2 separate regions of the Homo sapiens genome follow, and region 2 is linked to region 1. Evidence: fine-mapped expression QTL. Tissue or cell type: thyroid. Region 1 holds a variant in brackets; the other region holds the start of a gene. All regions are shown on one strand. Distances are from middle to middle.

Evidence for each region. PIP is the estimated chance that this variant, and not a neighbour inherited with it, causes the effect.
Region 2: it holds the start of TLN1, and the variant in region 1 is fine-mapped to the expression of TLN1 in thyroid (GTEx, PIP 0.97).

The regions. Positions count from the first base shown.
Region 1 is chr9:35,646,742-35,651,854 of GRCh38, reverse strand. It overlaps SIT1 (signaling threshold regulating transmembrane adaptor 1), which reads left to right and starts at 924. Exons shown (of 5, transcript NM_014450.3): 1 at 924-1,101; 2 at 1,218-1,353; 3 at 1,440-1,498; 4 at 1,610-1,671; 5 at 1,774-2,560. The coding sequence starts at 1,002. The coding sequence ends at 2,007. LOC101926948 (a long non-coding RNA gene) reads right to left here. Exons shown (of 2, transcript NR_135130.1): 2 at 4,379-5,113. It also overlaps a transcript of CD72 not described here. RefSeq lists a silencer at 1,144-1,213 and enhancers at 2,124-2,173, 5,034-5,113. The variant C/A (reference allele first, on the strand shown) is at 2,748.
Region 2 is chr9:35,730,066-35,735,213 of GRCh38, reverse strand. TLN1 (talin 1) reads left to right here and starts at 3,019. Exons shown (of 57, transcript NM_006289.4): 1 at 3,019-3,139. It overlaps CREB3 (cAMP responsive element binding protein 3), which reads right to left and starts at 2,548. Exons shown (of 9, transcript NM_006368.5): 1 at 2,313-2,548; 2 at 2,071-2,218; 3 at 1,932-1,999; 4 at 1,729-1,818; 5 at 1-105. The coding sequence starts at 2,441. MIR6853 (microRNA 6853) reads right to left here and starts at 2,292; the gene lies at 2,219-2,292. RefSeq lists enhancers at 2,423-2,512, 2,563-2,612, 3,413-3,462, 4,852-4,911 and silencers at 2,743-2,902, 2,943-3,232.

The DNA.
Region 1 (5,113 bases):
ACTGATTTTTTTTTTCAGAATTTCTGGAACATGGTGATAATAAGAGGACTGATTTTTATTTTTTAAATTCTCTACAGACAATGCACCCCCTTATTGCCTGCAACTCAAGGGGCAGGACTTCTGCCATCCCTATTGTTGGCATGCCACTGCACTGATTTTAAACTTTTAAAAAATGTTGTATGGGCTAGACAAAACACATCTCTGACTTCTGGTCTCAGGTTTATATTTGCAACTTAAAATCCCTCTTCCTACATCAATAGCCTTGCACGTGATGGAGTTAGCTCTAGGTATGGCAGGTACTACACCCGCTGAAGTGAACATGTGCAAGATAGGGCTCAGTTTCCCAGGACAGTCCTACAGCAAAGAGTTTTAAAATGCAATTAATTATTGAGAGTGACAGTTCTTACAGACAGTTTGGATGAAGTGGGTTGAAAGGGGAGGTTTGGGGGTGTCCCCCAAATTATAATGCCCCCAATGAAACAATAACAAGCATCATCTAAACACATATCCTCTCAGATCAGCCTTAGGGTGTGATGGGATCAGAGGTACCAGGAGGCTCCCCCGACCCTTCCACTTTATACCATACTCATTGAGGAATACATCTTTCTTCTGGGACCAGAGTCAGGGAGGAAGGTGGGCATCCTGGAGCAGAAGGGGTGTTCCTGTCCTTGTTAGTCCTGCTTCACACCACTTCTGCCCCCACCCCCCGCCCTCAGAGTCCTCAGGGACTCAACTGCCCGTGGCACATTACCCACAGGCCTGCTTCTCTTCTCAAGGGGGGCAAAGGGCCTGGGCAGCGAGGGTGGGGGAAGCTCAGGAGCTGCAGGAGTGGCGCAGGTGCAGGCACAGGGCGGGGTCTTTGTTCTTTTTTTCATCCCTCCCCTCCCCCTTCCTCCCCGGAAACCAGAGACTTTGCCACCACCAGTATTGGGGATGCTGAGCTGCGGGGTACGGGCCTGAGGAGGGATGGGAGTAAGAAGTGCTGTGGAAACCGTCAGGCCATGAACCAGGCTGACCCTCGGCTCAGAGCAGTGTGCTTGTGGACTCTCACATCTGCAGCCATGAGCAGAGGCGACAACTGCACGGATCTACTCGCACTGGGTGAGCTGGGCAGGGCAGGGGCTGGTGGGGGAGGGGTCATGTGGCCCCAGGTCCCACCTGCTGGGCCCTGGGGGTGGGGCGGGGCTGTTACACCCCCCTTCCTTTCACATCCACAGGAATCCCCTCCATAACCCAGGCCTGGGGACTGTGGGTCCTCTTAGGGGCTGTGACGCTGCTATTTCTCATCTCGCTGGCTGCACACTTGTCCCAGTGGACCAGGGGCCGGAGCAGGAGCCATCCGGGGCAGGGACGGTGGGTGAAGGACAACAGGGATGGGTTGACTGAGAGTTCTCTCTTACCGAGAAGTCCCCACTCATCCCCTAAACTCTGCGTTGCAGCTCTGGAGAGTCTGTGGAAGAGGTCCCGCTGTATGGGAACCTGCATTATCTACAGACAGGTAGGGAGCTGGCAGAGAGGAGGGGCACAGAGGCCAGGTCCTGGGTGGCTGGGATGGGGGCGTGCAGGAGGAAGGACAAGTTGCTGACCAGATTCCTGTTCCCCGTCCCAGGACGGCTGTCTCAAGACCCAGAGCCAGACCAGCAGGATCCAACTCTTGGAGGCCCTGCCAGGGTGAGTCAACTGTGGCTGGAGAAAAGGGGGAGGGAAGGAAGTGGGGGGCTTTTCGGGCTTTTCCGAGGGTCCAGTGAACTTCTAACAGCCTTGCATCTCCAGGCTGCAGAGGAGGTGATGTGCTATACCAGCCTGCAGCTGCGGCCTCCTCAGGGTCGGATCCCCGGTCCTGGAACCCCCGTCAAGTACTCGGAGGTGGTGCTGGACTCTGAGCCAAAGTCCCAGGCCTCGGGCCCCGAGCCGGAGCTCTATGCCTCAGTATGTGCCCAGACCCGCAGGGCCCGGGCCTCCTTCCCGGATCAGGCCTATGCCAACAGCCAGCCTGCAGCCAGCTGAGATGGAGGGCCTGGCACAGCGGGGCGTGCACTGCCCCAGCCCCCCGTAGCAGGGGCATGACTGTTTCCCAACCAGCACCCAAAGACGGGCGCCATTGCCAAGTCACAGGATGTGATCTACCCCGGACTTCCTATCTGAGCTTCAAGGGAGACATCTCAGGGCAAAGCTTTCGTGATGGAGGAGGCAAAGACAGTAGCCCCCTCCTTATTTCTTTTTTCTATCTGTTCCTCTTAGCCCCCAAACTCCCAGGTTCTCACTTCCTTCTTCTGGAGTTTAACCAGATCCTCCCCACCCCCGCTCCCTCATAGTCTACCCCCACGCCTCAGTGTCTCCTCAGGCACAGGAAGTGGGCGGTGGGGGAGGGGTAAGGGCCTGACAGTGGGTGGGTGGGTATATTCCTCAGGAGTCCACAGACTGGAGTGGACCTGGAACTTAGAGACGGGAGGGACCCGAGCCTGGCTTTTGACCTAAGAACCCTAGCAGGAGAATACAGTCTCCATCCTGCTGTCTCTGTCCTGTCCCCAAGTTTTCAAATAAAACTTTCCAAAAAGTGTTTAGATTTTTACCTAGAAGGCTGAAGACTTGCAAAGGGCCCTGCAGATGGGGGTGTGAGCTTTGCTGTCTGCACGGAGCTCTTTCTGGGGGTGCCTAGCTGGGGATGAGGGGCCAAGAGGGGCTGCGGCATCAACAGTGCAGAGGTGGGCACCGGGGTGGAGGGCCAGAGCCCAGCTCCTCAGCTG[C/A]TGTTGCTGCTGCTAGAACACCCCTGGGATCTGCACTCAGAGCCACTGCATTCCCCCTGGGGCTGCAAGCTCACAGTCCTGAGCTACTCTCCCCTTGACCTCTATAACTGCCATCACCTCCACAACCTGCCAGCCTGGTTCCTTCATCAAGTCCTCCAATCTGACCTCCGTCTGTCCGCTATGAGTCCCACCTATACCCCTGTTTTGACATCAGTAGCCTTATCTGCACTTAGTCATCGTATACCCCTAGAGGCCTTCTCCTTACCCCATCACTATGGCAGCGGTCCATCTCCACTCACTCTCTCCCACTCTGGCCTCCCAAAGTGCTGGGATTACAGGCATGAGCCACCGTGCCTGGCCTTCACTCTCTCAGTTGTCACCTGCAGTCTTGGCAACAGTTTTGCTTGTCACCACTTTCATTTTAATCCCCATCTAATTTGTCCTGCCTGTCCACCCATCACCTGCTGATTCTTAACCCCAGCCTCCTACCCCATATAGCATGCTACATCAGCCAGTTGGCACAGAGATTAGGACTCTGGGCTCAGGAGCCGGACTGCCTGCATTCAAATTCCATGTCTACCACTTACCAGCTGTGTGTTCTTGGGCAACTGTGCCTCGGTTTCTGAATCTGTAAGATTGAGAGGATATTAACGGTGTTTACTTCAAAAAAAGGTGGTTGTGAGGCTGAATGAGTTACCATTTGTAAAGCACTTAGACAATAAATGCTCAATAATGCTAGGCATTATTAAAATAAGAGAAATACAGGATCCTCTATGGGAGCTCATAGGTGAAGTGACTTCTAGGTAGAGACATGACACATAGTAGGAATCTGCCAGGAGAAGCGAAGGACAGAAAATGCTCCAAGGCAAAGGGAACCACAGGCAAAGGAGAGGCTTATTCAGAGGACCTGGCAGAAGTGCATTAGGCACAGCGGAGGGTAGAGTGAGATGGGGGCAATGGTAAGATGAGGCTGGAGGGGCAGACAGAGCCAGATCACACTGCGCCCATAAGTCATGCCAAGGAGCTTGGGCTTTATCCTGCAGGGGAGGTGAAAGGGAGTCACTGAAAGTTTTAAGCGAGGGATGAACACAGTGAGTTAAAGGCTCTAACTCCACTGGCTGCTGTGCTGATCTAGTGGTCAGCAGTCTGGAGTCAGGCGGCGCCTTTCAAAGGCTATTGCAAGATTTGAGTGAGAGGGGATGGCGGCAGTAGCGGTAGGGATGCAGAGGAGGGATGGATTACAAAGAGATGTTTAGGGTTTTTTTTTTTTTTAAAGGCCCCACCTATCACATCTTCCAGATTTCTGGTTAGAGCCTGTAACACCCCCCAACCCAAATCCTCATCATCATAATACAGCATAGCTCCAAGTTGGTTTCAGCTCATCACCTTCCTCACCTGGCAATCTCTCTCTCTCTCTCTCTCTCTCTCTCTCTCTCTCTCACAAACACACACACACCCTCCACCCCTTAAGCCCATCTGTGATCCATCTGTCTAGCAAAAGCTCCAACCTGTCAAACCTCTTCTAGGATATTTCAAGGTCTAGACCATCTCCCCAGGGCCTCTGTAGAGGCGGGCCGCGCTTGACAGATCTTTCTGAGGCTTGAGGGGCTGAAGAAAGGAGAAGCTGAGGCTTTCACTTCCAAGCTTCTCTTCTTCCCACTTGGAGTGCCACAGGAAGCCACAGAGGAGGAACCCGTGCGCCTGATTCCTGCCTGGTGGTCCCAATTTGAAAGGGACCACCCTTCCCTTAAGCCCACCCCCCTACAGACCCCACAAATGCCCCTGGGTCCCTGGACCTCTGAGGACCCCACCCTGGGCCTCCCCAGGAGAGGCCCAGGTCGCGGTTAAGGGCAGGTAGCTGGGGATGCGGAGGAGGGAGGGAGGGAGGCTTCGGGGGCGGACACCGGATGCGGGGAACCACCGGCAGCGGGATGTGGGGTTCTGAGGGCTGCGGTGCTTCTGAAGATGGCTCAGCGTCGCGCCAGGTGGACGTGAGAGCTTTACCCTGGAGGAGGCGGGGGTTGGAGTCCCGCCTACCCACTGGGACAAGCCAAGGGGTCAAACGCCCCCAACCCAGCCCGCAGATCTCCTCGAAGCACCCGGTTCTCCTGGCCCGCCCAGACCCACGGCGCTCGCCGCCTTCGCCCGCTTAGGACTGAGTCCGCAGCGCCGCCGCCTGGCGAGGGGCGGAGTTGCCACCACTTCTGCGCAGGCGGGATGCAGCCTGGCCCGCGGCATCCCGGGAGTTGTAGTCTCGACGCTTCGGGGCCACCCCAGGGTCTGGTCCCTGACGACGCGCAGTGAGGGCCCCGCCGCTACCCCAGCAGTCGCCTCCCAAGTTCGCGGAACGCAGCTGACCGGCTCCC
Region 2 (5,148 bases), 83 kb before region 1:
GCTCTCTAAACCCCCAACATACACCTTCTTTTTCCTGCGGCTCTCTTGAGCAGATCTTTTATTTCGAATCTTCCTCCGCACACGTTTCAGAATTTGTTCCTCTGTCTGAAAGGAAACAGGGAAAGGGATATCATTAGAGGAACTCTAGAAAAAGGAGTTGAAACGCAACTGAGATCAATCTCTTTCCAATACAGAAATCCCTTCTACAGCTTCCCTGACCAACAGGCATTCAGATTCTTTCTGAATGCCTCCACGGACCAGGTGTTAACCCTAACAAGCCAGACCATTTTAAACTATTAAAAAAAAAACTGGTCGGGCAGTATTCAGGCGACGTGGCTCATGCCTGTAATCCCAACACTTTGGGGAGCTAAGACAGGAGGACCGGTTGAGCCCAGGAGTTTGAGACCAGCCTGAGCAACATAGTGAGACCTTGTCTCTACTAAAAATAAAAAATTAGCCGGGTGTGGTGGCACATGCCTGTGGTCCCTGCTACTCAGGAGACTGAGGAAGGAGGATCACTTGAGCCTGAGAGGTTGAAGCTGTAGTGAGCCATGATCTCGCCACTATTCTCCAACCTGGGCAATAAAGCAAGAACCTGTCTTCAAACAAGCAAATAAAAACTTCCTTATCCTGAACCAACAGCTGCCTCCTTATAATTTCTATCCGTTGGACTTACCTAGTATCTCTGGGGCCAAATAGAATAAACCCTGTTTAGCTATTTTAAGGCACTTAACATTTCCTCAGAGCTTAAAGAAAAAAAAAAAGACAAAATTTTTAACTCATCTTCTCAGGATAGACTGCATCCTCTTAGTATCTGTCAAAGATGTGCTCTAGCCAGTATCAAGGAAAGCAAGAGAGTGACTTGTAGAGACAATAACTCTATTGCTACAGTTTCCAAATCCCATGAACTTTCTTAGTAGCCACATCACACTGCTGACTCATCTTGTACTTTGAAGAAATTAAAATTCTTCACTTTGGGAGGCCAAGGTGGGTAGATCACTTGAGCCCAGGAGTTCGAGACCAGCCTGGCAACAAGGCAAAACCCCATTTCTACTAAAAATACCAAAAAAAAAATTGCCGGGCAGGGTAGTGTGCACCTGTAGTCTCAGCTACTCGGGAGGCTGAGGTGGGAGAATCACCTAAGCCCAGAAAGTCAAGGCTGCAGTGAGCCATGATCACATCAGTGCACTCCAGCCTGGGCAACAGAGCAAGACCTTGTCAAAAAATATATATATATTCCTGTAACCTTTCTATTAATGAGCACTGATTTCATCATAGTACCCCAGTACTCTGCTTGTGAAGTTGCCACTCATTGCTTAAAACTGAAAACTAAGGATTTTACATTTATTCATGTACTGCTTAGTCCAACCCTGTTGAACTCTCTAAACAGTTCTACCATTCAGCAAGAGGTGGATTACTATGAAGCCAACGAAGTGTCAAGGCCCTTCACTTACACAGTCCTTTCCAAGGCCCAATACTAATGTTGCACTGATAATTTTGAGTTATTTTTTTAACAGAACACCAAAATTTGTATAAGCCCAACAAAAACGAGGATCTGCCCTTGCATCTGGCATATTGTGTACCTGCCTCAACTTCCTATTAGCAATAAATCTACTAAGTTTCTCACCTCAATCCTTTTTTAAAGTTATTGATATAAAGTTAACAGAATTTGCCTACTTGGGACTTTTAATCCCTTTTCAGCCTTTGTTCAACCAATGAGAGTCTTACCTTAGTGAGAGGAAGTGTCTCAGGCAGAATAAGCCCCTCCTTCTCCAATAGACTCTTCTCCTCATCTGTCAGTACTAGCCTAGCAATCTCCTAGGGTAACAAGAAAGTGGACGGCAGTTGCATGGGGATGTCAGAGAGGAATGGGGAATCCTGCCCCCACCTGGGGAATGTGAGAGTAATCTCCTGAAAATCAAGTCAAGTACCTGCTCTGCCAGCTCCTCCATATGCTGTGGAGTCATCTGGGTCCCCTCTTTTCTACAGCTCTCACTCTCTGCAAAAGGGAAAGTATGAATAGCCAGGCCCATGAACCCTGTCCTCCCCGCAAACTTATTTCAGACTCACCTAGATCCATAGAGACAGTTTCCCGTGGGAGGGAGTAGGTGTGGTCATGGTGGACAAGGCAGGGGTTGGAGGAGCTGAGAATGTTCAACGACGCTGGGGGACTCAGCAGGGAGCACAGCAAATCATCTACTTCCCAGTCGCTCGGTACCTGCGCAGGGTTCCAATGAACAGGCCTTGACCTTATCACCATCACCTGACTTCATGGACATCCCACGCTTTCCCCAGTCAGAACCCCAACCTACCTCAGAAAGCGGCAGCGCCCAGTCCAGTGGGGCCCTCACGGCCTCATCGGGTGCCGTCCCCAAATCTCCACTTTCCTCTAGCAGGAAGGCCAGCAGGTCTTGGTCACCAGCATCCAATTCCAGCTCCATTTGGGACAACTACGGAAAGGGTGGGCCACCGGGCCCCAACGTCCGAAGCCCAGACACGAGCCCCAGGCCAGCTGTAGGCCTCGGGCACCTATCCACTGTCCCTCTACGGCCGGGATTCCCCGCCGGCGGCTTTCCATAGCCCTCTCCGGACCCGCCTCCCAGGCTCAATTCTCCTCAGCCTCCAACGCAGCGAAAGTGACGCACCCCACCCCGTGGCACTGTGGGACTTGGAGTTCCCTCCAACTGAGAAGAGGCTTGGGTGCAGCGCCACGTCCCAGGGGCTATGCAAATGTAGGGGACGGCCCTGCTGCCGCCTCGCACCCCGAGGGCGGGGGTTCCGGGGCTCCGGCTCCGCCTTCTACCCCAAGCTAGAAAAAGGAAGAGTTCTAGCCTGAAAGGGAACTCGGGCGTCGTCCTGGCGTCCTCTCCGGATTGCGCCGCACCCTCGCTTCCTGCCAGGGAGGGGCTGCCGGGCTTTGGCGGCTCCCGAGCATCGAGAACGGGGCCAGAGCAGCTTCCTGCCTGCCCCCCGCGACCATAGAGCGCGGGCCCAGGGCGCCGCCCGCGGGTGGGGGACGTTCCCAGGACGGAAGTGGCCGAGAGAGTGTCGAAGGGAGGGCGAGGCCGGAGCCCGAGGGCGACCCGAGAAGCGGCGGGGCGGCGGGCCGGCGGGCGGGGCGCAGAGCCAGGCAGCGCAGGTAGGCCAGACCGGGCCGGGCGGGGGCCTTAGGGTGGGGCCGCGGGGCCTGGCCCCGGGGCGGGCGGGCCCTGCCTCTCTTGCGTGTCCGGTTCGGGTCCTATTAGTTGGAGAGGTCAGCGTCCAGCGCATCTCGGCTTGAGCTCGGCGTGAAGTAGGCCGTCTTGGGGAAGACAGGCCTTTCCTGGGAGCAGTCCTATGTCTGGGATAGGCTTTGGGGAGCGTGAGGAGTCGGGTGGCAGCGGGGCGCAGGGCGGGGACGGGCTTTGGTGTTAGCTGATAGCGGGCATGTGGGTAGGAAAGCTTTGGGTGAGTTGGGGATTAGGTGGGGTCCGTTTAGGAATCAAGGGTCGCTATAGGAGTTAAAAGCTGGGGTTAAAACTTAAGAGTTAGTGTGAGTCAGGTCCGTTTTAGATAGGTAAGGTTTAGATTACGGTCATTATCTTGTTTGCTGGGATGGCCATCATACGTCATAATTTGAGTTCAGGGTCAGGTTAAGGGTCAACAAACAACAGGAATCAGGTTAGAGCTTGTTTGAGGGATTAAAGAATGTTGGCATGGTCGGTGTTAAGGATAAACAGTGAAAGCGTGAGTTAGGAATCAAATTATAAATGAACTTTAGGCTTAGGGGTCAACATTTAGGGTTAACATCAGGGGATTTGGTGCTAAAGGCAAAACTTAGATCAGTTTCAGGGATCAGGGATTGGATATGAGTCTGTGCTAGGAAAGGGATGAATGTCCAAGCCGGTACTGGGAATCAGGAAACAAATTAGAGGTGGGGTTAATGTTAGGAATTTGGGGCAGCTTTAGGGGTTGTGGTTTGAGGCTAGCATAGTTGACCTTGAGCAGATAAAATTTAAGAGGTTGGCAGTAGGTAAATGCCCTTCTTTTGTAGGGAAATCCTTTATTCCTATGTAGTTACAGGGGCTTCTTTTTACCCAGAGAGATAAACTAATTTCAGGCTAGCGTTCTGGCTTTAGCTAGAATTGCAGGCATCTGGGATTCCAGCTTCTTTATTCCATTCTCTAAGCCCAAGGCCCTTGCTGTGGCCACCACAGTTAGGGGACAGAGATTCTGGACTGTGTTGTTTACAGACAACATAGGTGGGAAATAGGGACCCAGGATGTACAAGGCCTAGTCACAAGTTGGGGACTGCCTAGGGAAGAAGGAGCTGATGACTATGGGGGAAGCTAACCAAGGAATCACTGTTGCCATGGGAGAAGGGAATAACTGAATCCCCTGAAAGTTTAGCCCTGCTTCTCCCACTTCACTTGTTCTCTTGGTATTAAGCCCTCCTCTCCAACTCTCATCCCTGACTCTGCATTTCACACCCATCCTGCCTATCCCCTTACAAAATACTTCCCTTGCCTTTAACTCTCCCATGCTCATCTTATCATCCGTTCCCATCCTTAGTTCTACCTCCCTCACCAACCTTTAATCCGCACATCCTACCTGAATTTACCCTCATCAAAACCTGAGCTTTCCCATCATTTTAAATTACTCTCCTACCATTTTCACCCAGTCATGTACCTACATTCCACCTGGTCATCTGCTGAATACCCTACTCCCATCCCCTGCTGTGTGTCACCCCCTGGATCTAAGCCTCTTTTAATTTCTTGGACCATTTGTAGATCCCCTTCCCCCACTCCCCAACAGAAAAGAGGAAACGAGACCCAAAGAGGAAACTGGGTCTTGCTGATCCCACGCCCAGCCAGGCCACTGACCACACCCCCACTTCACTCCCAGCCTGACCCTGCCACTGACCACAGCACTATCCTCTACTCAGCCTGACCCAGCCACTGGCTGTACCCCATCCCCCATCCCAGCTCCAGCTTTACTTAGACATTGCCAATGTCCCTTCACTTTCCCACCCCCACCCCAGTCTGATTTAGTGACTGACCACAGGCCCAGCTCTTCTCAACCTCCTATAGCCTGACCTGGCCTCTGACCTCACCCCATCATTCCCTGACTTAGCCACCATCCATGTAATCATTCCCCTTCCCCCAACCT